Linked DNA regions of Homo sapiens. The protein of the gene in region 5 purifies or fractionates together with the protein of the main gene of each other region. This does not show direct contact. Each region holds a gene or a part of one and is shown on either strand. Other genes may lie near its edges.

The links.
Region 1: the proteins of PSRC1 (region 5) and REXO4 purify together in Homo sapiens (co-immunoprecipitation; one large-scale study listed by IntAct). This does not show direct contact.
Region 2: the proteins of PSRC1 (region 5) and UNC13A fractionate together in Homo sapiens (co-fractionation; one large-scale study listed by BioGRID). This does not show direct contact.
Region 3: the proteins of PSRC1 (region 5) and PINX1 purify together in Homo sapiens (co-immunoprecipitation; one large-scale study listed by IntAct). This does not show direct contact.
Region 4: the proteins of PSRC1 (region 5) and GNL2 purify together in Homo sapiens (co-immunoprecipitation; one large-scale study listed by IntAct). This does not show direct contact.
Region 6: the proteins of PSRC1 (region 5) and YTHDC2 purify together in Homo sapiens (co-immunoprecipitation; one large-scale study listed by IntAct). This does not show direct contact.
Region 7: the proteins of PSRC1 (region 5) and PRMT2 purify together in Homo sapiens (affinity purification with mass spectrometry; 3 studies listed by BioGRID and IntAct, with this or other methods). This does not show direct contact.

The regions. Positions count from the first base shown.
Region 1 is NC_000009.12:133,408,011-133,411,510, reverse strand, and holds part of REXO4 (RNA exonuclease 4), read left to right. Parts: intron 1-437; coding exon 438-526; intron 527-2,668; coding exon 2,669-2,743; intron 2,744-3,500.
Region 2 is NC_000019.10:17,636,355-17,639,854, reverse strand, and holds part of UNC13A (protein unc-13 homolog A), read left to right. Parts: coding exon 1-15; intron 16-329; coding exon 330-419; intron 420-637; coding exon 638-772; intron 773-3,500. UniProt on the Homo sapiens protein: Plays a role in vesicle maturation during exocytosis as a target of the diacylglycerol second messenger pathway.
Region 3 is NC_000008.11:10,822,876-10,826,375, forward strand, and holds part of PINX1 (PIN2/TERF1-interacting telomerase inhibitor 1), read right to left. Parts: intron 3,370-3,500; coding exon 3,277-3,369; intron 2,569-3,276; exon of another isoform or gene 2,498-2,568; intron 1-2,497. UniProt on the Homo sapiens protein: Microtubule-binding protein essential for faithful chromosome segregation. Mediates TRF1 and TERT accumulation in nucleolus and enhances TRF1 binding to telomeres. Inhibits telomerase activity. May inhibit cell proliferation and act as tumor suppressor.
Region 4 is NC_000001.11:37,578,938-37,582,437, reverse strand, and holds part of GNL2 (nucleolar GTP-binding protein 2), read left to right. Parts: intron 1-101; coding exon 102-215; intron 216-892; coding exon of another isoform or gene 893-1,096; intron 1,097-3,500. UniProt on the Homo sapiens protein: GTPase that associates with pre-60S ribosomal subunits in the nucleolus and is required for their nuclear export and maturation.
Region 5 is NC_000001.11:109,280,346-109,284,486, reverse strand, and holds the start of PSRC1 (proline/serine-rich coiled-coil protein 1), read left to right. Parts: upstream 1-1,341; 5' UTR 1,342-1,424; exon of another isoform or gene 1,425-1,750; 5' UTR 1,751-1,788; coding exon 1,789-1,807; intron 1,808-1,911; coding exon 1,912-1,969; intron 1,970-2,426; coding exon 2,427-2,868; intron 2,869-3,235; coding exon 3,236-3,350; coding exon of another isoform or gene 3,351-3,440; coding exon 3,441-3,710; intron 3,711-3,997; coding exon 3,998-4,091; intron 4,092-4,141. UniProt on the Homo sapiens protein: Required for normal progression through mitosis. Required for normal congress of chromosomes at the metaphase plate, and for normal rate of chromosomal segregation during anaphase. Plays a role in the regulation of mitotic spindle dynamics.
Region 6 is NC_000005.10:113,520,194-113,523,693, forward strand, and holds part of YTHDC2 (3'-5' RNA helicase YTHDC2), read left to right. Parts: intron 1-3,500. UniProt on the Homo sapiens protein: 3'-5' RNA helicase that plays a key role in the male and female germline by promoting transition from mitotic to meiotic divisions in stem cells.
Region 7 is NC_000021.9:46,652,674-46,656,173, forward strand, and holds part of PRMT2 (protein arginine N-methyltransferase 2), read left to right. Parts: exon of another isoform or gene 1-171; coding exon of another isoform or gene 172-381; exon of another isoform or gene 382-2,424; intron 2,425-3,500. UniProt on the Homo sapiens protein: Arginine methyltransferase that methylates the guanidino nitrogens of arginyl residues in proteins such as STAT3, FBL, histone H4. Acts as a coactivator (with NCOA2) of the androgen receptor (AR)-mediated transactivation.

The DNA.
Region 1 (3,500 bases), on a different chromosome or scaffold from region 5:
GAGCCCAGGGCCTAGGGCAACACATCTCTACCCATTTTTGTGGGGGCAGTTTTGTTTTTATTTCCATTTGGGAAATTGTCAAGTAAATCATGAGGTTGAATAGGCAGAACCACGCTGCCAGGCGGCTCTAAAAGTTTCTCAGTGCCTACACTCAACATATGCTCTCCTCCAGCCATGAGCCGACTTTGCAGACTGTGTGGAGCACTTTATTCCTCTCCTCAGAGGTGGTTCTCGCAGCCACCCCTGCCAGGGGCCCACAAGGCACTTCTCCCAGGGGGGTGGGTGGATGTGGTGGCTTCGAGTCACCCTCCGTAGTGGCATTGCAGGCCTGACCATTTGTCTTAGGTCTGACCAGGGGTAGGAGCGGGGCTGCCTCCTCACAGAATGATGGTGATGTGTGTGTTGCAAAAAACCGCTTCTTTGTGTTGATTTTCCAGGAGAAGAGCTTGAAGTTGTTCAGAAGGAAGTGGCAGAGATGCTGAAGGGCAGAATTCTAGTGGGGCACGCTCTGCATAATGACCTAAAGGTACTGGGCTCTCTCCTGGGGACTCAGCCTGCCCCTGCTCCGTGGGTGTTACACTCACGCCCTTGCTGTGTTGGGGAGTTTTAACAATGTGTGGGTTTGTGCTCTATGTTGGGAATACTTTGGTAATAATATCAGATACCGCGTGCTGAGTTCTTACTGTGTTTTAGGAGCCATGCCAGGCTCTTGTTTTGAGAGCCCCCAGCGAAACTGGGGTACCCATACCAGAGCAGCTGGCAACCCCGCCCTAATGAGAAATGAAGGTGCTGATACCCCTTTTACCTGGAGGAAGGCCTAATGTCCAGTTGTCCCATCCGTGACCAGGGTCCCTCCACAGGAAACAAGTTTATCCTGGCAGATGCCCTGTGGCCCATGTTCAGGTTACGCTTGCCTAACCATCACCCTGGCCCTGGGAGCTTGCCTTTGCCTTCTTTCTGGCGTCCCGAGGAAAATCCCGCCTGGGGCAGCCCCTGGTTCTTCAGATGGAAAGTGCAAATTCAGACACCACCACCGTGGGAAACAAGTTCAAAGACATATACAGACCCTGGGCAGGGAAGGCGTCATGGGTGGGGAGGGCAGCCTGCCATCTCCTGGTCACCCGAGGCAGGAATGAAGAGTCAGGCAGAGCGAGTACGTGTGTATTTACAGGAGAACAGGGTGGGGGTCACTTTGAGTTTATGGGCAAATGCCTGGATGTTGGTTTAAAGGACACAGTGGGAACAGCGGGGAGGCCAGTCTGCTAGATGGGAGAGACACTTAAGTTGTCACCTCTGCCCACCGGCTTGAAGCACTTGGGTGTGGTGAGGAACTTGAAGCCGTTCAGAAGGAAGTGACAGAGATGCTAATGTTCAGGCAGCAGCCTTTGCTATGGTGCTCCCGTGACGGCACTGTAGAGATCCCTTGAATCCATTGAAGATGCTGGAGGTGTTCATGCTTGTTTACAGAGGGTGAAACTGAGGTGAGAACCCCCCGGGCAGTGTCCTCACAGAAAGGTCTTCTGTGTGCTCCTGCTGTACCCCCTCAGAGACTGCTGCCGTGGGGACTCGTCCTTCCCTCCTGACTCTGACTCCATCCCTGGCACCTTGCGCAGCACATGTTCAAGTCTTTCTTGAAGATGATGCTAAGGACCAGACACAGTGGCTTATGCCTGTAATCGCAGCTTTTTGGGAGGCTGAGGCTGGAGGATTGCTTGAGGCCGGGAGTTAGAGACCAGCCTGAGTAACATAGGGGAGACCCCATCTCTATAAAAAATTTTAAAATTAGCCAGGTGTGGTGGCGTGTGCCTGTTGTCCCAGCTACTCAGGAGACTGGGGTAGGAGGATCAGTTGAGCCCAGGAGGTTAAGGCTGCAGTGAGCCATGATTACCCTATAGCACTGCAGCCCAGGTGACAGAGTGAGATCCTATCAAAAAACAAAACAAAACAAAAAATTGCATGCTAAGATTGCAAGATGAGCTGTTAAAATGTGTTATTTGCAACTTCCTGATGTGTAGAACCAACTCAAAATACAAGTATAATATAGGAATAAGTTGGTTGCTGGTTAACTGTTGACTGTTTTTCTCCTACTTCCTTGATTTCAAGATTTTGTTTTTATTGTCTCTGACTGTTGGGCATCAGCTTAAGTCAGTGCAATAAATTTCCTTCTGGAGTTGAAATTCATATCAGTGCCTTGTTTCCATGTGTGTGTGACACACTTGGATTCCCTACAAGATGTTACTTGCAGGGCAGCCGCGTTGGCTCACACCTGTAATCCCAGCACTTTGGGAGGCCGAGGCGGGTGGATCACCTGAGGTCAGGAGTTCGAGACCAGCCTGGCCAACATGGCAAAACCCTGTCTCTACTAAAAAATACAAAAATTAGCCAGGCATGGTGGCGGGCACTTGTAATCCCAGCTACTCGGGAGGCTGAGGCAGGAGAATCACTTGAAACCTGGGGTCGGAGGTTGCAGTCAGCAAAGATTGAGCCACTGCATTCCAGCCTGGGTGACAGAGCAAGACTCCGTCACACACACACACACACACACACACACACACACACACACACACACACACACAAAGATGTTACTTGCAAAAGGTGGCGGGGGGAGGGGGTTCTGCTACTACAAACCAAAAATGAAAATGATTATCATTATATTTTATTTTTCTAGGTACTATTTCTTGATCATCCAAAAAAGAAGATTCGGGACACACAGAAATATAAACCTTTCAAGAGTCAAGTAAAGGTACTTAGAATGAGTGTGACTCAAGATACTGTATTTCTGTTTTGCTGGTCACTTCATTGTTTCTGGTCACTGGTGGCTGACTTGTTGGTTAAAGGGTTTTTGTTTTTTCTTTTAACCTTTAAAACTAGAAGGAATGTTTAAAAATAGAGTTCTGCTAATTGCTGACCTTAAAAATGATTGCAACGGAGGGCAAGTTATTTCCACTCTAACCTCTGAAACAGGGTCACTGACTAAGGGCCTGGTACCACTGTCGTATCTGCTCTAGAGGGTGCCAAGGGCAGAGCCGTTCTTCATCCTTTTTTTTTTTTTTAGACAGGGTCTTGCTCTGTCACCCAGGCTGGAGTGCAATGGCATAATCTTGGCTCACTGTAACTGCCACCTCCCAGGCTCAGGCAATCCTTCCACCTTAGCCTCTGAAGTAGCTGGGACTGCAGGCATATGCCACCACCCCTGGCTAATTTTTTTATTTTTATTTTTTTAGAGATAGGGTCTTGCTGTGTTGCCCTGGCTATTCTCAAACTCCTGGGTTCAAGTGATCTGCCCTCGTTGGCCTCCTAAGTGCTGAGATTACAGGTGTGAACCACCATGCCTGGCCAGAGCTGTCCCTCTTGAAATAAGCAGGGAGGCCTCAAGATGGGAGATGGGGATGCTGACTCCTCCCCTGGCCCTCTCCTTTTATTGGCTGATAGGGGTGTATCACCAGCCCATCATGCTATAAATGGCAGCTGGTGGCTACCACCCTAAGTGCCATGAGCAC
Region 2 (3,500 bases), on a different chromosome or scaffold from region 5:
CTCTCCATGTACCGGGTAGGAAGTGTGTGCATGAGAATTTGCTCACCCCACGCACATGTGTGTGCCTGGAGGGGAAAGCTACCAGCAGGTGTGTGCATGGGAGGACCCATCTTCGCATGTACGATGTGTTCCTCCAGCATGTGTGCACCTGCATGGGCACTACCTGCCGTAATGTGCTTGGTGCATCCAAGCAGATCCCCAGTTGCTTCGAGGTGCTCTAATCAACCCCCAGCCTGAAACCGGGGAGCCTTTGTATCCCCCTGAAAAGCAGTCTCCCATCCTCCCCACGCCTTCTTCCATAACCCCACATCTCTTCCTGCTCCCAACAGAATAACTTCCCAGCCAGCAGCCCGGAGAGACTCCAGGACCTCAAATCCACTGTGGACCTTCTCACCAGCATCACCTTCTTTCGGATGAAGGTAGGAAAGGATCCAGTTGCCTTTGCTCTCCAAGGAGGGTTCTCTAGGATCCCCAGCTCCCAGGACAAGTGACATTCCTCCTGGAGAGTGGCAGCCTTTCTCAGTAACCTTTTCCTTTCATACCACTTCATTTCCTTAAACCCAAAATGACTCGCAGTCACTTCCTGGGGACCTCCTGTCACAGCTGTGGCCGCCTATGCCTCTCTCCCTCCCTTCAGGTACAAGAACTCCAGAGCCCGCCCCGAGCCAGCCAGGTGGTAAAGGACTGTGTGAAAGCCTGCCTTAATTCTACCTACGAGTACATCTTCAATAACTGCCATGAACTGTACAGCCGGGAGTACCAGACAGACCCGGTGAGACTCCAGATGGGTCAGAAGGGAACAGTGATGCCAACTAGACACAGGCTTCAGTCCCAGCCCTGCCCCTTCCCGAGGGATTTAACTCTTCTGAACCTCAGTATCTTCTTCTATAAAATGGGGTCATTAACCCACATCTCAGGATTAGGGAGAAGAGTTCATGAGCTGTAAGTTTAGATAAAATATAGTCGGCACTCAGTACATTTGGTTGCGTAGTTGAGTTTGGCATAAAAAAAAATTTTTTTTTTTTGAGATAAAGTTTCACTCTTGCTTCCCAGGCTGGAGTGCAGTGGTGTGATCTCAGCTCACTGCAACCTCTGCCTCCCAGGTTTAAATGATTCTCCTGCCTCAGACTCCCGAGTAGCTGGGATTACAGGTGCCCACCACCACACCTAGTTAATTTTTTGTATTTTTAGTAAAAACGGGGTTTCACCATGTTGGCCAGGCTGGTCTCGAACTCCTTGACCTCAGGTGATCCACCTGCCTCGGCCTCCCAAAGTACTGAGATTATAGGCGTGAGCCACCACTCCCAGCCTGGCATAAAAATTTATGTCTGGCATACAGTCACTGTTCAGTAAATGTTGAGTTGAATTGAATTTATTTATTTATTTTGAGATGGGGTCTTGCTCTGTTGCCCAGGCTGGAGTGCAGTGATGCAATCATGGCTCACTGCAGCCTCGACCTCCCAGGCTCAAGTGATCCTCCCACCTCAGCCTCCCAAGTAGCTGGGACTATAGGCACGCACCACCATGACAGGCTAGTTTTTGTATTTTTGTGGAGATGGCATCTCACTATGTTGCCCAGGCTGATCTCCTGGGCTCAAGCGATCCTCCTGCCTCAGCCTCCCAAAGTGCTGGGATTACAGGCATGAGCCACCACCTGTAAGGAGCTTATAGCCTATTATGAGGGAAAGATGTACAAACTGGAAATTTACAAACAGGGATGGTTAGTATTGAGATAGTGGGATCTCAGGAGGCTGTGGGAGCTGGAGGCAGCCCCTACCCAGGTTCTGATAGGATATAACACATAAGCTGTGTTCAGTTCAATTTGATTTCATTCTGTTCCTTTACATTCAGTTGACTAGAGTTGGAATCAGTCTCACTCTCATTTGAATTGAGTTGAGGTGAACTGGATTAAATTAGGCTATAAGGAGCTTATAGCCTATTATGAGGGAAAGATGTACAAACTGGAAATTTACAAACAGGGATGGTTAGTATTGAGATAGTGGGATCTCAGGAGGCTGTGGGAGCTGGAGGCAGCCCCTACCCAGGTTCTGATAGGATATAACACATAAGCTGTGTTCAGTTCAATTTGATTTCATTCTGTTCCTTTACATTCAGTTGACTAGAGTTGGAATCAGTCTCACTCTCATTTGAATTGAGTTGAGGTGAACTGGATTAAATTAGATTGTTTAGTTCAACCATAATCAGTTTAGTTATATTTATTTCTATTTGGTTGACTTAAGTTAAAATTGTTCTTGACGGCCAGGCACAGTGGCTCACGCCTGTAATCCCAGCACTTTGAGAGGCCGAGGTGGGTGGATCATGAGGTCAGGAGATCGAGACCATCCTGGCTAACACAGTGAAACCCCGTCTCTACTAAAAATACAAAAAAATTAGCCGGGCGTGGTGGCGGGCACCTGTAGTCCCAGATACTTGGGAGGCTGAGGCAGGAGAATGGTGTGAACCTGGGAGGCAGAGCTTGCAGTGAGCTGAGATCGCATCACTGCACTCCGGCCTGGGTGACAGAGCGAGACTCCGTCTCAAAAAAAAAAAAAAAATTGTTCTTGACAAATTAGTGAGCCAGGCTGGGCTCAGTGGCTCACACCTGTAATGTCAGCACTTTAGGAGGCTGAGGCAGGAGGATCCCTTGAGGCCAGGAGCTCGAGACCAGTTTGGGCAACATAGCGAGACCCTATCTTTGCAAAATATACAAAAATTAGCCAGGTGTGGTGGCGCACCTGTAGTCCTGGCTACTTTGGAGGCTGAGGTGGAAGGATCACTTGAGCCCAGGAGTTCGAGTCTATGGTGAGCCATGATTGCACCACTGCGCTCCAGCCTGGGTGACAGAATGAGACTCTGTCTCTTGAAAGAAAAAAAAAAAAAATAGAGAGAAGAACAAGTTGGTTGATTGCATTGAGTTTTATTGAGTACAAATTCATTCATTTCCATTTAGTTCATTTACATTCAAGTCAAGTTGTTCTCAACTGGGTTAAATTGTCTTGAGTTAGGATGAACTGGGTTGTTGGATTAGATGCAATTGATTTCAGTTGAATTGGGTTGAATTGGGCTAATTTCAGCTGATTATATTCATTTCCATTGATTAACAAAGGTGGGTTGAATTGCCCTGCGTATGTTCAGTTGGGTTTAGATAGGTAGAATCGGATTGGGTTGACTTGGGTAGAGTTGAGTTCGAGTCGATTTATTTCCATTATTTTGATTTGGGTTGATGTTGATCTTGGACAAGTTGATTAGGTTCAATCCAACGGAATTCATTTGAGTTTAATTCAATCCAGTTAGGTTGAATTGCACTCCATTCAGTGTGATTGGCCCAAGTTCAGTTCCATTGATTTAACTCAGAGGAAGAACTTACTTCCGTTAAGCTAAGTGGGCTTAATTTGCATTCATTTCATTTCCATTTGGTTTAGTGGAGCTGGGTTTGTTCAACTAAATTTGGTTTCATTTATTTCCATTCACTTTTAGAGTGGAGTCTAAAAATCTTAAGC
Region 3 (3,500 bases), on a different chromosome or scaffold from region 5:
ATGTAGGTAGCTTCAATAGTTTAGAAAATTCATTTGCATTATTCAATCAAGAAGGACAAATAAAATGACATACTTTTATTTTTATCTTTTTAAATGGCAAACACACAGAACTGGCAGTCAACCGAGGGCAGAAGATAAGGGTAACTCCACTAAAAGACACCATAAACCAGGAAAGTGGAAAGAGTCAGTGTGAGTGACACAGGTCAGACCTACCAGGTGCTACCTGATATTTATTTAAATGTCAAAAGAATCAGAAGAGGAGATTGAATGCTCCTCACTACCAGTGTGCAACTGAGGGGCGGGGCTGACTGCGCTGTGAATACCAATTCTGTATTTCCCGACCAGGAAGCCGAGCACCTGCACATGCGTTAGGCATGTAGTTTCCTTGTTTCAGTAGCATATAAAATAGCCCAAACTCTCAAAAGGATTAAGAAGTCTGCAAGATTCCCAGGATAAAGCTGCACAATTACAGTTTATGCAACTTTCATCCAACAACTGCATAACTGAGGGGAGGAAGCACTGCTCTCCTGCTCTCCTGCCAACGTCTCACCATCCAGTCAGAAAACCTCAGAAATGGCTTTGTATCGATTGACATTTTCCCCTCTGCAGATATAGCCTCTATCTGCAGAGACCTTTTGCATTAAAAAAAAATACAAAAAACTACAAACCAAGCTGGAGTTGAGCCTTTAAATAAGTATGATAAAACTGACATTTAAAATTATACAATAAATTAGCTCAAGTTAGAATTATAAACTCAGGACCAGGGAAAGGAATAATTATATATCAGAACTAAAACGATATAACCAACCAGGTGCAGTGGCTCACACCTGTAGTCCCAGCACGCTGGGAGGCTAAGGCAGGACGATCACTTGAGCCCAGAAGGTCAAGTCTGCAGTGAGCTGAGACTGTTCCTCTGTGCTCCAGCCTGGGCAACAGAGTGAGATCCTGTCTCAAAATAAAAATAAAAATAATGATACAGCTGATATTTAGGCAGTAGCAAATTTTACAACACTATTTGCTACTGTAATCTTAGTAGAGTAAAATTTTAATCTTCACTCTTCCCAAGCTATGTACAATTGCATCTTCCTGTTTGATTTCCTGGACGATACATGAGTTGCAATATGAATCATCCTCATCAACTAAGTGAATGAGTTACAGTCGTTATCAGCATACCCACTGGCGAAAATCTTTATTATCTACAATGCTGAAAAAGCAAAAGTTCCATGAAATGGGTCATTTCTAATAAATCATAAAACAGAACCTACCTTAGAACTTAATAGTCACTTACAAATGTATCCACATTTTACAAAAGAGGAAACTGAGTCTGAAGGGAAATGGGTAGGTGACTTGTCTGAGCGAGTAATGGCCAGAGTGAGATTTTCTGTGATCTAAGATAGTCCACCCTAGAGGAAACTTTAAAATAAGTGTGCACCGTGATTGGAAAGCTAGCTGATAAACCATTCTTTTCCTCACTCCCTGGACTTTTGCTTCCTTCTCCCTTTCCTACGTAGGCCCAGTCTGCATGTCCTTCCCGTCTCCACTCCAGCTCTTCTCTGCAATCTGACAATAGATCCGAGAATCCTTCTGTTCTGCATACTGACTCCCTCTTCTCCCCAGGCAAGGCTAATAGATACAGAACCCTCGCTGGAAGACAGAAAACGAAGGCACGAGGCACTCAGCGGTCTCACAGGGTCACCCAGCAAAGGAGTGGCTTAACTAGAAATAGAAAGCAGATGCTCCCGGCATCCATTAGATTAAAGCAGATTACAGAGGCTTATCCCAGCCTCAGCAAATGCTTCAGATGAAATCATGCATGCAGTCTGGCATCAAAGGAAAATTAGAAGATTCTACCTGTAAAAGTGAAAGCGTAAAAGGCTGCCACATCATCCGAAAGTTACAGGTCACTGAGTTTTATTAATTTGCTCTGCAACAGCACCTTCTGTGATCTCTAGTTTTTCTCTACAGTCTAATGAAAGAAGAAATGCTATTTCAGGGACTGGGTATGAAGTGAGCATGTACCCTCTCTTCAAAAGGACTGAGGGCCAAGGAAGCCTGTATTCTGTTCCATAGCACGCTGGGGTGGAGAAGAACCCCAGTCAGAAGGGATACGGGCGACAGCCAAGAAAGTTCCATGTGAGAGAAAGAACGGAGGAAGCGGAAGAGCCACGGCTGCTGGAGAGGGAAGGGAGGCCCAGCCTCTCCCTGCACACAATCCCCAATCCACTCAGCTCTGCCACGGCCTCTCACCTCAACCAAACCCAGCCCTCACTTTTGGGCTCCTGGCCCTAAATGAAAAGCATCATCAATACTTCAGAGTAGTGGGGATTCCAGCTCCCACTGCTATCCAGGCTGGCTGTACAAGTTAAGAGCTTCCCAGCAATGCCCTGATACGCATGACATTCCTAGAAGACCAAAGCAGAGATGTGCTGTTCCTGGCATATCAAGGTAGAAACACATCCAACCTCCCAGGAAAGAACCATCAACAGAGACTAGATATTACAGCATCAGCAGCATCATCACGCTTCTTATGTAAACTATGTAATAAGTAGGTTTCTAATTCATGATACTGTTCTACAGACAAACTGGGGAGTTGGTTCTATTAGGTTAAATTGCTTCTTTCCAATGCAAGATCGCCACCTAGTGGCTGAAGACAACAACCGCATGCACAAATGATTTCACATACTGGGAAGGGGCTAGGGAGGTGGTGATGAAGGAATAGGAATTCTCACCCAGGTCTCAAACGGCTTTTTACCCGACTTGGCAATGACTATGGAATGCCTACGCTGTGAAATGGAGAAATTACGTGGAATAAAGGGTCAACCAGGGAGTGTGCTTTATCACACTGGAGGTATCAATATAGAGCATAATTCTCTAACCTGGCGTATTAAAAGCTATTTAACACCAACTTTCAGCTGTGAAAAAACACCATGCAGCTAAAAATGTTGGGCAAGAAATTAAAATTATTTTCTGACCTAGCTACATAAAGTCCCGTTTTCCTCTAAATATAAGCTGATTCCATTTTTTAGCTCAGCCACAGGACTTGTTTACAGTCTAAAACCTAATCTGGGTCCCATCTCAGATCTCCTAGATCTGAATTCTAACAAGATCCTCAGGCACACCACAGTCAATGCGAAGACTCCAGCGCTGTTTCACAGCAATGCAGTCGGAGCTGTCCATAAAGCATGAAGTCGCTATTGGCCCAGAGCTAAAATGCTTCAAGCAACTCAGGACAAACACGTAGATTTCAATAACAAGTAAAGAAATGCTTAATCTTACCTTTTGTGAATTTCATATAGTGAACACGGTTTTTGGAGATTTTGGACTTTTCCTCAAGGCTAAAAGATTTCTTTTCCTTCTTGTCCGAGGAATCTTTAAAAAAGATGAAAAAAATACATTAAAGTCTTTCTAATCCAATCTCATTTATTCTCCTAACAGTGGATAGTCTTGAAAGAAAATTTTAGGAGCCCTATCATTAATGATTGAACTCTTTCATTCATTTG
Region 4 (3,500 bases), about 72 Mb from region 5:
CAGTATATTTGAAACAGTTCTGTAATTCAAGCTCTGATTCTTCCACATAATGTAAATAAATGTACTGCAGTTTACCAAAATGTTTTCATCTCTCCTTCTAGAAACGGTGGGTTGCTGTCCTCTCCCAGGATTATCCAACACTTGCTTTCCATGCAAGCCTTACTAACCCGTTTGGCAAGGGAGCATTCATTCAGCTTCTGCGGCAGTTTGGAAAGGTATTGAGCCCTGATCTGTTTCTCCTGGAGTTGTGTAGCTGTGAGTTGGTATAAGAATCTGTCTTGCCATGGCATAGCAGAAAGTTGCCAACTTCTTAGCCGGACGTGGTTGCGCAGGTCTGTAGTCCTAGCTACTCAGGACGCTGAGGCAGGAGGATTGCTGGAGCCCAGGAGATCAAGGCTACAGTGAGCTATGATGGCACCACTGCACTCCAGCCTGGGTAACAGAGCAAAACCCTGCCTCTAAAAAAAAAAGATGTGGCCGGGCGCGGTGGCTCACACCTGTAATCCCAGCACTTTGGGAGGCCGAGGCAGGCAGATCACAAGGTCAGGAGTTTGAGACCAGCCTGGCCAATATGGTGAAACCCCGTCTCTACTAAAAATACAAAAATTGGCCAGGCATGGTGGCACACGCCTGTAGTCCCAGCTACTGGGGAGACTGAGGCAGGAGAATCGCTTGAACCTGGGAGGCGGAGTTTGCCGTGAGCCGAGATTGCGCCACTGCACCCCAGCCTGGGCGACAGAGCGAGACTTCTCAAAAAAAGAAGAAGAAGATGTAAAAACTTCCAGAGATGTAAAAACTCACAGAGCATCAGGATTATAAGAGATTCTGAAGTGTTTTCTTGCTCAGCCTTTGCCCCCATCCGTGACCAGTGTTGCTTCCATTTCTGCCACAGCCCTGGCACCTGACGTTCCACGCTCTGCTGGGCTTTCCAGGCCTGCTGTGCATCCTCTGCCCATGGAGCCCATGCAGCTTCTATGTCCTCTGGTTGGAGAGGGCCCTGCCAAAATTCAAGCTTCAGATCCCTGGTCAGACGTCAGCTCCTGAGGGAAGCCGTGGAACCAGACTACCCTATCAAATTCTTAAAGCTTCATGTTCTGTACCTGTCATTTTGAATTTGTCTATTTAGTTAATTCTACCTGGCTTCTAACAAAAGACACATGTCTGCTGTCCCACCCTTCCCCACTTTACAGAAGCAAATGCTTCCAATAGCCATTAGTTCTGTTATTTTCCTCCATATTTTTAGTACATGCTTATGATTTTCTTGATCTGTGCCCACCCCTCACCCCCAGTTTAAGATGCTTATTAATTTCTTACTATGGAAAATGAGGATTTGCTATCTTATAGCCATCCTCTCTCTGTATGTACTTCCCCCTGTATTGTTAGATGCCAATGTTGGGTTACAGTATTATTCATTCAGTGTTGGTTGGTTGTTGTTGTTGTTTTAACTTGGAAAGGAGAGCTTTATTTCTCATAAAGGGTTGCAGCCTGCAGGGTGGCCACTCTAACAGGCTGGGAAGAGTAGTCTTGGCCATTCAGTCTTTACATTGTCATGACTGTAAAATATTAGTCACAGCTGATCCACATGGTGTGCTATGAGTATAATTCCTTTCTGATCGAAGCTTTTATTTTCGCTAGTGTTACTTTGCTGTGTTCTATTTGTATCTGTCACTATCATACTACCAAATTCTCTGATACAGTGGGAACTGTCAGAGCTTCCAGGCAGCACAGGTAGTTCCCTTCGGTGGCCAGCACTCCGTCCTCCGCAGGGCTGGCCGCTCTCCAGGCTGCTGCAGCGTCGTCTTTCTGGGATTTCCTTTCACTGTCATCCAGAGAATTCCCATGGCTGTTTTCCTGTATGGGACCTCTTATTTATAGGACCTCTTTTCTTCTTTTCTGGTTTACTCCTTTCTTTCCATGGGACATATTTTCCAAAAGTTTCCTGAGAAGGAATACTTGGAAAGAACATTTTTTTGAGATACGCCTTGCGTTCTGAAAATATCTTTATTAAGATCTTTATTCTACCCTTTATGCTGTTTTTCCTCAGAATACTGAGGTTACCACTGCACTGTCTTCTGAATTCTGAGGAATCTGAGGCCATTCTGACCCCTCATACTTTGTGTGGCTGTGATTTCTTGTTTTGAGACAGGGTCTTGCTTTGTCACCCAGGCTGGAGTGTGGTGGCACAACCACAGCTCACTGTAACCTCAAACTCCTAGGCCCAAGCGATCCTCCTGCCTCGTTTTGGCCTCCTGAAGTGCTGGGATTACAGGTGTGTGCCACCACGCCCAGCCAATCTTTTCTTATTCTAAAATTTAAAATTTCTCTTGTTCTAAAATTTCACAGTGGTGTGTCTTGAAGTGGGCCTTTTATTGCTCAGTGAGCTTGGCGTTTGATGAGACTTTAGTCTGATATTGTCTTACATTATTTCTTTGAAATTTTCTTTCCTCCCTCAGTTGTCTGTATTCTTGTTCAGAAATTTGCTTTTACCTCCTGGTTTAATTCTTGATTTATATTTGCTTTCTTTTTTTTTTTTTTTTTTTTTGAGGCAGAGTCTCACTCTTGTCACCAGGCTGGAGTGCAGTGGTGTGATCTCGGCTCACTGCAGCCTCCGCCTCCCGGGTTTAAGCGATTCTCCTGCCTCAGCCTCCCGAGTAGCTGGGACTGCAGGCACACGCCACAACGCGCAGCTAATTTTTGTATTTTTAGTAGAGACGGGTTTTCACCATGTTAGCCAGGATGGTCTTGATCTCTTGACCTCGTGATCCGCCCGCCTCAGCCTCCCAAAGTGTTGGGATTACAGGCATGAGCCACTGCACCTGGCCTATATATTTTTTCTTTTGGTACATATATGACATTTTCCTCTATTTTCTGGGTACTTTTTTTTTTTTGTGAGACAGAGTTTTGCTCTTGTTGCCCAGGCTAGAGTGCAATGGCGCGATCTCGGCTCACTGCAACCTCCTCCTCCCAGGTTCAAGCAATTCTCCTGCCTCAGCCTCCCGAGTAGCTGGGATTACAGGCATGTGCCACCACACTTGGCTAATTTTGTATCTTTAGTAGAGACGGGGCTTCTCCGTGTTGGTCAGGCTGGTCTCAAACTTCCGACCTCAGGTGATCCGCCCCCCTCGGCCTCCCAGAGTGCTGGGATTACAGACGTGAGCCACTGCTCCCGGCCACTTTCCTTGTTTTGATCATCCAGCTGCCCAGTCACAAAATTTATTTTGCCAATTGCTTTTAATTTTTAATTTCTGAGAGCTCTTGTTGAATTCTGATTTGCTCTGCCTCCTTTTACATCTTATTTCACAGTCACAGTATCATTAATGACGTTTTGAAATTTTCCTGTCTGCATTGATTCTGTTACCTCCAAATTTTTGTGGGTTTTTTTGTGTTTTCTGCTACAGTCACGCTTAAAAATTTTTTCTTTTACTTTAAAAATTTTTTTGAGACAGGGTCTTGTTCTGTCTTAACCCAGGCTGAAGTGCAGTGGTGCGATCATGGCTCAC
Region 5 (4,141 bases):
ACAAGGGATGAATTATTCATGAGTTTTCCGGGAAAGGGGTAGGCAACTCCCTGGAACTAAGAATTCCTCCCCTTTTTAGACCATGTAGGGTAATTTCCTGATGTTGCCATGGTATTTGTAAACCGTGGTGATGCTGTCTGGAGTGTCTTTTAGCATGCTAATACATTATAATTAGCGTATAATGAGGACTGAGGACCTCCAGAGGTCAGTTTCATCGCCATCTTGGTTTCGGTAGGTTTTGGCTGGCTTCTTTACCGCATGCTGTTTTACCACCAGGGTCTTTGTGACCTGTATCTTGTGCCAACCTCCTATCTCATCCTGTGACTTAGAATGCCTAACCTCCTAGGAATACAGCCCAGGTCTCAACCTTATTTTACCCAGCCTCTATTCCAGATGGAGTCGTTCTGGTTTGAAGCCTCTGACAAGTTCACTGGTGGCCCGGGCAACATTTAGAAACAACAGAGACAACACTCCTAACAAGTTGGTTTAAGCATTTTACAAATACTGCTTTTAGTTCAGAGGGGGCTACTTACAAACACCCCCTCTAAATCCCCTAAGGGCACACGGTAGAAAACGCCTTCATAATTATCCTCGTAACACCGTAACTGCGAGGACCAACATCCTCCTTTCACAGATAAGCGAAGAGAGGTGAAAAGAGGGCAAATATACTCAAGGCAGCCGCCTCTAAACCGAAACTTGGGTTCTGAGGTCAGTTAAACTTGGGTTGCATTTGAACCTAAGCCTGCCTGCGTGAAAAGCCCGTTGCTTTCTTTGCACCTCAGCTGCCTCAGGTTCTTGAAGAGGCGATGGAGGATGTACTTCTAAGAGAACCTCAATATACCTACAATATAAGTGTTTAGGTGCTCCCTTAACTTGGAAAAAACCCACAACTGAGGAACCTCGGCCAATGCGGCGCCTGCATATTGAGTGCGCCCAAGAAAACGAATTTCCTCCCGTAGAGCGTCGGTTAGCGGCCACGTTAGGCAGCACAACCGTTCTGGAGACTGGGTGCTCGGCGGCCCAGCAGAGGGAGCGGGGCGGGGCGCGAGTTCCATACTCGTGGGTCCGTTTCTTCCCTCCTGGCCAGCCGCGCTCTGCTCCCATCTGCCTACGGGAAAGAGAGTCTCCGCGCACGCGAGCACGCGCACTCGCAGCCTCAACCCTCGGCTCCGCCACCGGGATGCAGTCTTCTGGGAACGGTTCTCCCCCAGCCCCCACCGGCTGACTTCCGGCCGGCAGCTCCTCAGCCCCTCCCCCTGAGGATTCACCAATCACGGTGCGCGTGTGGCTTGAGTAGGTGGGGCCTGAGAGATTCGAAAGGAGCCCCGCCCCCTCGGAGCTGATTCCCGGGACTAGGTTGCGGGAGAAAGCCTGTTGCGTGGAAGATAAGGCGGCGCGGGAAGTGGACACAGGGTGGGCTGGAGGTGTGCTTCGCGTGTGATGCCAGGGGAGTGGAAAGGTGGCTTGGGGAGTGCAGAACCCTGAGGATAGTGGCGGGGAGGAAGATGGGGCGTGCAGGCCGCCCCCAGTGAGGAGAGGCCAGGATGCAGGGCGGCTCCAGGGCAATCTGGGCAGTTGGGGGAGCCCTCCGTATCGTTCCCGGAGGTAGCAGGAGTAGCTGTGCGGGAGGTGCCACTCCTGGGCGCTTGCTTTGCCTCCAGCATGACCCCCGACCCTGGCTTGCACCCTGAATCTAGCTGCGAGCCTTGGGCAGAATGGATACCTGAGGAAAGGTATGGTTTCTCTCCAGCTCAGATCTAACTGGACTCTCGCTCCTGCTGGCTGGACATGGAGGATTTGGAGGAAGGTAAGGAAAGGAGGGAGGGAAGAATGAAAGGGAGGAGTGAGACCCAGCGATGGAGAGCTGCATCAGGGACCCATGACTGGCTTTCATTCTTCTTTCCCCTTCAGATGTAAGGTTTATTGTGGATGAGACCTTGGACTTTGGGGGGCTGTCACCATCTGACAGGTACCAGCCTCTTTATCCCACTTATTTTCCTCTAACAGTACCTCTTTGTCTCGAATCCCTTACTGCTGAATTATTGGCTTGGGTTGGTAACTTAGCAAGGTTTGGCGCACTTGGGGCTGCTGGGCGGCTGGCTGACTCGGGCCTCTATGACACTATTGGTAGCGGGGAGAGAAGGGAGAAGCTGGAGTTAGATTTCAGGGTGTTAAGAAGAAGGATAAGTGGATTTGCTGCATCTCCATCCTGGCATCATTTCTGATGTCCGTAAATGCTAAAGGCCTATTAGGCCCCATAGAACCAGGTATCTCATCGCCCAGAGGCCACATCTCACAGCCAGCATGGGCATCGGGGCCTAGGGTCATGTCCCTGGCTCTGTTGTGGGGCTTTTATGCAGTCTCCCTTGCATAATCTCCTGTTCCCTTTTGCATGGGCATGATGCCTGGTTTGTTTCCTGTCTCAGCCGTGAGGAGGAAGACATAACAGTGTTGGTGACTCCAGAGAAACCACTTCGACGGGGCCTCTCCCACCGAAGTGACCCAAATGCAGTGGCACCTGCCCCCCAGGGTGTGAGGCTCAGCCTAGGCCCCCTCAGTCCAGAGAAGCTGGAGGAGATCCTCGATGAGGCCAACCGGCTGGCCGCTCAGCTGGAGCAGTGTGCCCTGCAGGATCGGGAGAGCGCAGGCGAGGGCCTGGGGCCTCGCCGAGTGAAGCCCAGTCCTCGGCGGGAGACCTTTGTGCTGAAGGATAGTCCTGTCCGAGACCTGCTGCCCACTGTGAACTCTTTGACGCGGAGCACCCCCTCCCCAAGCAGCCTGACGCCTCGACTCCGGAGTAATGATAGGAAGGGGTCAGTCAGGGCTCTCCGGGCTACATCTGGAAAGAGGCCCTCCAACATGAAGAGGGTGAGTTGAGAGAGTTGAGTTGGAGGTGTGCCCCAGACATGGTGTGTGCCATGATGCAGGGAGTGGTTTCCTTATTGGTAAAACAGGGATAGCATTTCTACATCTAGAATTGTTGGAATTAAATGAGAACCATGAAAAAAGAGAACCAAAACTCTTACCACAGTGTCTGAGTATATGTCTATGATAAACTCAATAAATGGTATTGGCAATAGTGATGGTGATGGTGATGTGGTGATGTTAGCAGCTAACTTCTACCCTTCCTTACTGGGATGTAGACAACTCTCCACCTCTATTTCTTAATTCCTTAAGCCACAGAACAGATATTTTTTCCACTCTAGTCTTTTTTCTCTCTCTCTTTGTGTTTCAGGAGTCACCCACTTGCAATCTGTTCCCTGCATCCAAAAGCCCAGCATCTTCTCCTCTTACCCGATCGACTCCCCCAGTCCGGGGGAGAGCCGGGCCCAGTGGGAGAGCAGCAGCCAGTGAGGAGACCAGAGCAGCCAAGTTGCGGGTGAGTGGGAGTGGGGAGTTTGTGGGATTGACCCTGAAATTTCTCCACCCCTCTCCACCAGGCCCACCCACCCCCATCAGATCCGTCCTGGCCCCACAGCCTTCTACCAGCAACTCTCAACGCCTGCCCCGGCCGCAGGGAGCAGCTGCTAAATCTTCCAGTCAACTGCCCATTCCCTCGGCCATCCCCAGGCCTGCCAGCCGAATGCCACTCACCAGCCGGAGTGTGCCACCTGGCAGAGGTGCCCTACCTCCGGATTCTCTGTCAACTCGAAAAGGGCTTCCAAGACCAAGCACTGCAGGACACAGAGTGCGGGAAAGTGGACACAAGGGTAAGAGGTCAGGAGGAAGAATGCCCGCCCTTGCCCAGCGTGTCCTCACCCTCCCAGAGCTGTCAACAGTGACCACTTTTGCCATCCTTATTGCAATTCAATTGGAAGATGGGGAGACTGAGTTACAGAGAGGATATGGGGCTGGACAGAGTCTGAGTCTTAGTTTTCAAATACCTCATGGTCAGGGGGAGAGTACTAATCCCACACTCGCTCCCTTCATCCAGTATTTCTTTTCGAGGTCAGTTAAACTTGCTGCTAACTCATTTCTTTTGTTAACCCCCATGAAGTTCCTGTTTCCCAGCGACTAAATCTTCCTGTCATGGGTGCCACTCGCAGCAATCTGCAGCCCCCCAGGAAAGTGGCAGTCCCAGGACCTACCAGGTCAGTCTGGTCCTCCCTTGCCCATCCTGTCTCCCTACCCCGCCATCATC
Region 6 (3,500 bases), on a different chromosome or scaffold from region 5:
TCCAGCTTCATCGATGTCCCCGCAAAGGACATGAACTTACTCTTTTTTTATGGCTGCACAATAAACATAATTTTATTTTTACTTCAGTTTTTCCTGGAGAATCAAAGAGAGGGACACCTCCTGTTTTTTATGAAACTAGTATAACTTCGCTACCTAACTCAGATAAAGAAGATATTAGAAATGAAAATTATGGGTTTATCTTACTTATGATCATAGATGTAATATGCTAAATAAAATAAAAAATTAGGTCACATTTAAACTGGGTTTTCCCAAGAATAAAGGATTATTGAAAATAAAAGAATCTCTTTTTTTTTTTTTTCTTTAAATGAGAAGGAGTCAGCATTCTCATATTTGGATGAGGGCCTTTGGTTTGGTGCTGATTCATCTCTGGCCTGGTATTTACCACAAGGGAAAGGATAGACCTTGACCTGAAAGTGGATGACTCCCATGGCCTTAGTGCACTTTTTGTTCACAGAAGTGAGCAACAAGGACCAATGGTTCTTTCTTATACATTAAATGCAGCAGGATGTATGACAGAGCATGCCTCCATTTGTGTACTAGTGTGGATATAGTTTATTTTTCAACTTTTGAGTTCAGAGGTACATGTGCAGGTTTGTTACATAGGTAAGCATGAGTCAAGGGGGTTTGTTGTACAGATTATTTCATCACCCAGGATTAATCCTAGTACCCATTATTTTTCTTAATCCTCTCCCTCCTCCCATCCTTTACCCTCTGATAGACCCCAGTGCCTGTTGTTCACCTCTATGTGTCCATGTGTTTTCATCATTTAGCTCCTACTTACAAATGTGAGCATGCAGTATTTGGATTTCTGTTCTTGGGTTAGTTTGCTAAGGATAATGGCCTTCAGCTCCATCTGTGTTCCTGCAAAGGACATGGTCTCATTCTTTTGTATGGCTGCATAGTATTCCATGGTGTATATGTAGTACCACATTTTATTTATCCAGTCTACCATGGATCATAACAAGTTTTATAAGGCAGAGTCTATTTTAACACCTGGCACCTATATAACAGATGAGGCAATTAAAGCCTAGAGATGTTAAGTAATTTTCCTGAGATCACACAGCTAGCAAGTGGCAGAGCCAGGATTTGAACACAGTTAATACTTAACTAATTATTTTTTGATGTTCACATCAAGTTCATAGCAGTGTAGTAGGTGCTCTGAGGAGTTAGAACAGAAATATTGGATAGATCTCATCTTCAATTTAGCTTATAGTTCATTAAGACCAGAAAAATAGGCTGGGCGCAGTGGCTCATGCTGGTAATCCCAGCACTTTGGGAGGCCGAGGTGGGTGGATCACCTGAGGTCAGGAGTTCCAGACCAGCCTGACTAATATGGTGAAACCCCATCTCTCCTAAAAATACAAAAATTAGCCATGCATGGTGGCGGGCGGCTGTAGTCCCAGCTACTGGGGAGACTGAGACAGGAGAACTGCTTGAACCCAGGAGGCGGAGGTTGCAGTGAGCCGAGATCGTGCCACTGCACTCCAGCCTGGGTAGCAAAGCAAGACTCTGTCTCAAAAAAAAAAAAAGAAAAAAAACCCAGAAAAATAAATTTACTGTAGGCATAGTGACCATGCCTTGAAAGCAAAAAGCAAGACTCTGTCTCAAAAAAAAAAAAAAAAAGAAAAACCCAGAAAAATAAATTTACTATAGGCATAGTGACCATACCTTGAAAGCAGCTGTGCTCAGTTTGGCGACAACATGAAGTGAACTGGTTGGTTTATTAGTTTTTAGGTAATCATAAAAAAGTACAAATTAGTATGATGCAAACTTTACTACATTTCCAATTCTGTATTACAGTATTGGGGAGAAAGTGGTTTGGAGCTAGATCTTTGCATCTGTCTGCCTAATGGAAATATAAATTAAGGGAATATAAAATTAAGTACTTATTAGGCATCAAATGAATGCCTGTTTTTTTTGTTTTTTGTTTTTTTTTTTTTTGGTGGTGGTTGTTGTTTGTTTTTAAGAGACTCCTGGTGTCTGTGAGCTTTTTAAGCAGTCATTTGAGATTTGGGCTCTTCAGCTGATCTTTTAAACTGTTCTTAGATTTACAAGTAGGGAATATTGAAGCATATGTTTGTATTTGATTTAAATGTTTAGTAACATCCTTTTAAATTAGTAAATTGATTAATGTTAACATTGTGTCAAATTTGATTACTTATAGCATCATTTTTCTTTCAAAGGAAGAAGCCATTGAAATGCCAAAATGCATCGGTTACTTTTATTTTTCGAAAGTTAGGTGTTATGATGCTCTCAACTGTAATTTTATTACATTTACTTTTATATTTCAAAATTGCATATGGGGTTTACCTTTTATTTAAAAAACTCTTGTGAATTTCACTTAGCTAGCATCTTTTCCACATGTGCAGCTAGTTTTTAGTTAATTTTGCTTTGTATAAAAGATTCCTGTGTTTATCATCAAACCATAGTTTCGGTTATCTTGGAATGAAAGCATAATAAGGAGTTCTCAATTTGTTAGTTTACGTAGTATGACAAATTTCTACTGTATTTAATGTTTCCATCCTCACAACAATGAGGTGAATATTTTACCAAAAATTTCATTAATCCTTTTATGATATATCAGTGTCACTGTGGTGCTGACTGTGGTAGGAATAATCAGTAAAAGCACAAGTAGACTCCTTTACTAAAACATAAAAATGATCAAGTTGATATTATCTTTCCATTCTACCATATGTGCTCAAACTGAATTCAGTAAATTTTAAATGGTAATGGCTAAGTAGTCCCACCTGCTTATTATGAGGTTTTTTTTAATACCTAAATGCTATATTAGGTAACCTATGTTAGGAAGGTTTCAATCTAACTTATTATTTCAGTTGTGAGCTTGTTGAGAAAGGGTATATTTTACTCCATTTTGTATTCCTGGCTTCTACCACAGTGCCTGGCATAAAGTCAGTGTTTAGTTAATAGATGATAAATGATTGAGTGAATGAATAAAATACAATTAAAGGTGAAATATAGCAAAACCTTTCTGAGATGATTTTTAAGAAAATTAAAGCATCTTTGAGTTCTTAAAAATATGAAGTTTTTAAAATTAACAATTGTACAGTGTCAGAGAAGTAAAATGATTTGCCGTTGATCATGTAACTGCTTGAAAGTTTATTACTAGCTGAATACTAGCCTCCTACCATTTGCTCTGGTGCTCAGTTCAGCTCACTTCCTGCCTTTTGTAGTTAAAATTTTATGAAATGAACATCACAGAAGGGGAATGAATTATTGAGTCTATAATGACTGTCCTTTAGTTTCAGAAAGGTCCGTGGGAAAAGAACCTATTATAGAGAACATTTATGGAATTCAATAATTTGAATTTATCATGGAAATAAGTAAAACTTCTAGATCAGGTTAAATTTTATTTCATCTTTATAGCATCATTTTAAGTACCACCAAGTACTTTTTAAGGAGTAAATAACAACCTAGAAAGCTTAAAATTCATTGAAATATTCAATAAGGAGTTTCCAGAA
Region 7 (3,500 bases), on a different chromosome or scaffold from region 5:
GGCAGAATAAGTCAAAGAGCATTAAAATTTTTTTGTTTTTCCAGAAGCAGCAAAGTTCTGAAGGAGACGCAAGTAAAGATACCACAGGTGTCCTAGATTGTCAACAGACCATTTAATCATTTTTGTTAACAAAGCAGGTGACAATTGAGCCCTAATTTGCGTTATCATTAGTTGTTACAGGATCTTGCTTGTTCTCCTGAGGCCACGCCACGATTTCCGAGAAGCAGGTTGCACACTCAGCAGTCTCCCACTAGCCAGTGGCACTGCAGGTGCAGGGGCTGCCTCCTGGACCTTTCAGGACGCTTTGCAAGGTCACTGAGGATCTCCATTGCACATTTGGTAGAATTAAAAGACTGCCAGACTCAGTCTTACTGTTGTTAGTGTATTCGTGCTGTCAATATGTGATGAGGACATATTATATTCCGTTATTCTCTTTAGCTCAAGGAAGAATAAAGAATTTGGACCAAAATTACAACCACATTATGACGAATTTTCTAAGCAAAAGAAACAAAGTAACTGCTGAGGTTAACAAAGATGTAATAATTCTCTTCACACAGCCTTGTACTGTTTTATTGACTGTATTATCACAAATCCTGAGCTTAACGAAAGTCTTTATAAGTCAGCTCATGAAAACAGGCACGTGGCCAGTAAGAATTTAATTTCATACCAATAACACTTCAGACTTCGGATGTATTTAAGGCTGTTTGCACATATTTATAGAATGTGTGGTGTAGATGATGGGACAGCTCCCCCTCAGCAAGACTCTGGCCTAAATGTATTTGCTTTATTTACACAACAAGAGGATAAGCGTAAACACGGGCACTTTCAGTTTGTGGCACTGAAGGACGATCTACACAGGGCACCCTGCAGAGGCCACAACCAAGGCCGCCTGGCTTCCCAGTGGGACAGGCCTAAGGGAGGACTTCTGGCCCCTTTGCTTGATGTTCATGTTTTATGCCTTGATATTTCTTTTTGGTTGCATTCCCTGGAGCTCATGTAGATCATTTTACTTTTCAGAGGTGCTAGTTCTGGTGCCCACACGCACACACACAAAACCATCAACTCTTCTGGATTCCTTGGTTTTAAAGCTTGCCTCATACAAAGTACAGAGACATCTTTTTCAGGAAACATTGCCACCACATGCTTGAAGGACCGCTTATGGCTACACTTAGACATCTCCAACCAAGGTCTCTTCACCTCCTTCTACAACAATGCACTTTGTCTGCACTGGGACAAAAAATGACAGCCTTTTTTCTTTTCTTGTTTTTTTTTTTTTTTGGCGTGGAGCATTTCCGAACTTTCACGTCATAAAAAATGCAGCATAGTTAATCAGCAGCTTGCACTTCTGAGGGCACATTCACCTCGGGGGAGGAGGAAGGAGGAGGAGCTGGTGGGTGCTGAGACTGCAGTGTCCTCCTTCCCAGCAGCTGGACCCAGAGACCAGGCACCAAATTTTTTTGATGAAATTATCCTAAGGAAATAATCAAATTTGTACAGAAATTTATGTTAAAAAATGTTCATGGCAGCACCGTTTAAAATGGGGAGAAAATTGGAAACAACAGAATTGTAGCAATACATATGATCATTAAAAATTATGTTTTAGAAAGATTTTTAACAGTCTTTGGAAAAAGTTGGTGACATGTTGCTAGTTTTTAAAAAAAGTACAGAGTATGTACAGTATGATTCCAATTTTGTGTTTAAAAATTAGACATAGTGGTAACCTAGCTTCAGTTCCAGATAAGATGGAGAAGGCATACTCCTTTCATGTCTCCCACTGAATGCAGCTATAAATCCTGGAGAGTAGACAGGGAGAAACTATTTGAGGACTCTGGAACAAAGACATAGTAGCAATCGACTGGTGAAGAAGACAAGAATTTGAAGTACGGTCAAGTATCTGTGGGCTCCACATCTGTAGATACAACCTACATGTATTGAAAATATCAGAAAATAAAAATAACAATACAACAATAAACATCAATACAAATAACACACCAATACAGTATAGCAGCTACTTACATAACACTGACATTGTATTAGGTAGAAGTAATCTAGAGATGATTTAAAGTCTGTCGGAGGATGTGTGTAGCCTGTATGTAAAAACCACGTTATTTTATATGGGGGACTTTAGCATCCAAGGATTTGAATATCCACGGGGGTCCTGGAACAAGTTCCCCATAGACACCAAGAAACAACTGTATTCCTGAAACAGTCTTGAGTTATCATTTTCTTTCTTCTCCCTCTATGTATGTACATAGAGTGTACATACATAGAGTGAGAAGCAAAGAAGGTCCATGAAATGGACCAATTCTTTTGAAAACTGCAAATTACCACAGTTCATCTAACATGAAATAGATAACCTGAATGGTCCAATAACTAGTAAAGATATTGAATTAATAGTTTAAAAACCTTCTGAAAGGTAAATCTCTACCCTAAATGATTTCACTGGTGAATTCTATCAACACATTTAATGAAGAAAAAACTCCAGTTCTAAACAACTTTCAGAAAAGAAGAGGGAACACTTCCTCACTCATTATATGAGGTAAGCATTGCCCTAATACCAAAACCAATGTTAACACAAAATATGAAACCTACAGACCAATAACCCTCATGAACATAAATGTAAAAATCCTCAAGAAAACATTAGCAAATTTAAACCAGCAGGATATAAAAGGAATAATAATACACCATAACAAAAAAAGAAACTATCCTTGGAATGCAAGGCTGGTTCAATATTTGAAAATCAATCAGTGTAATCTACCATATTAACAGTCTGAAGAAGAAAAATCATGATTATATCAATACAGAAAAAAATTGACAAAATTCAACATCAGTTCATGATAAAATTCTCAGCAAACTAGAAAGGGAAGGAAATTTAACATGACATAGGACATCTACAAAAAAACCTACAGAAAATCCTAAGGAGTCTATGAGAAAATTTCCTAAAACTAGTAAGTGAGTTTAACAAGATCACAGAGTGCAAGGTCATCATACAGAAGTCATTTTTATATCTTAGCAATGTACAATTAGAAATTAAAGAATATCACAGTAGCTTCAAAAATATGAAAGGCTTAGAAATCTAACAAAATGTGATCTGGATGCTGAAAATGATGAGATGATAATGAAAGAAACCCCAGAAAACCTAAATAAATGGAGAGATAAGAAGGCTCAACCTAGTAAAGACGTATGTTCTTTTTAAATTGATCTGTAGACTTAATAAAATTCCAATTAGAATCCAAGCAGGATTTGTTCTTATAGATAAGCTCATTATGAAATGTATATGGAATGTAAAGGAACTAGTGCTATGGTTTGTCCCCACCAAATCTCATGTTGAAATTTGATCCTCAGTGTGGTGGTGTTGGGAGGTGGGGCCTAGTGGGAGGTGTTTGGGTCATGGGTGTGGATCCCTCATGAATAGATGAATGCCCTTCCTCGTGGGTAGATAAGTGAGTTCTAGCTCTTTCAGGTCCCAACAAGAGCTGGTTGTGAAAAAGAGCCTGGCA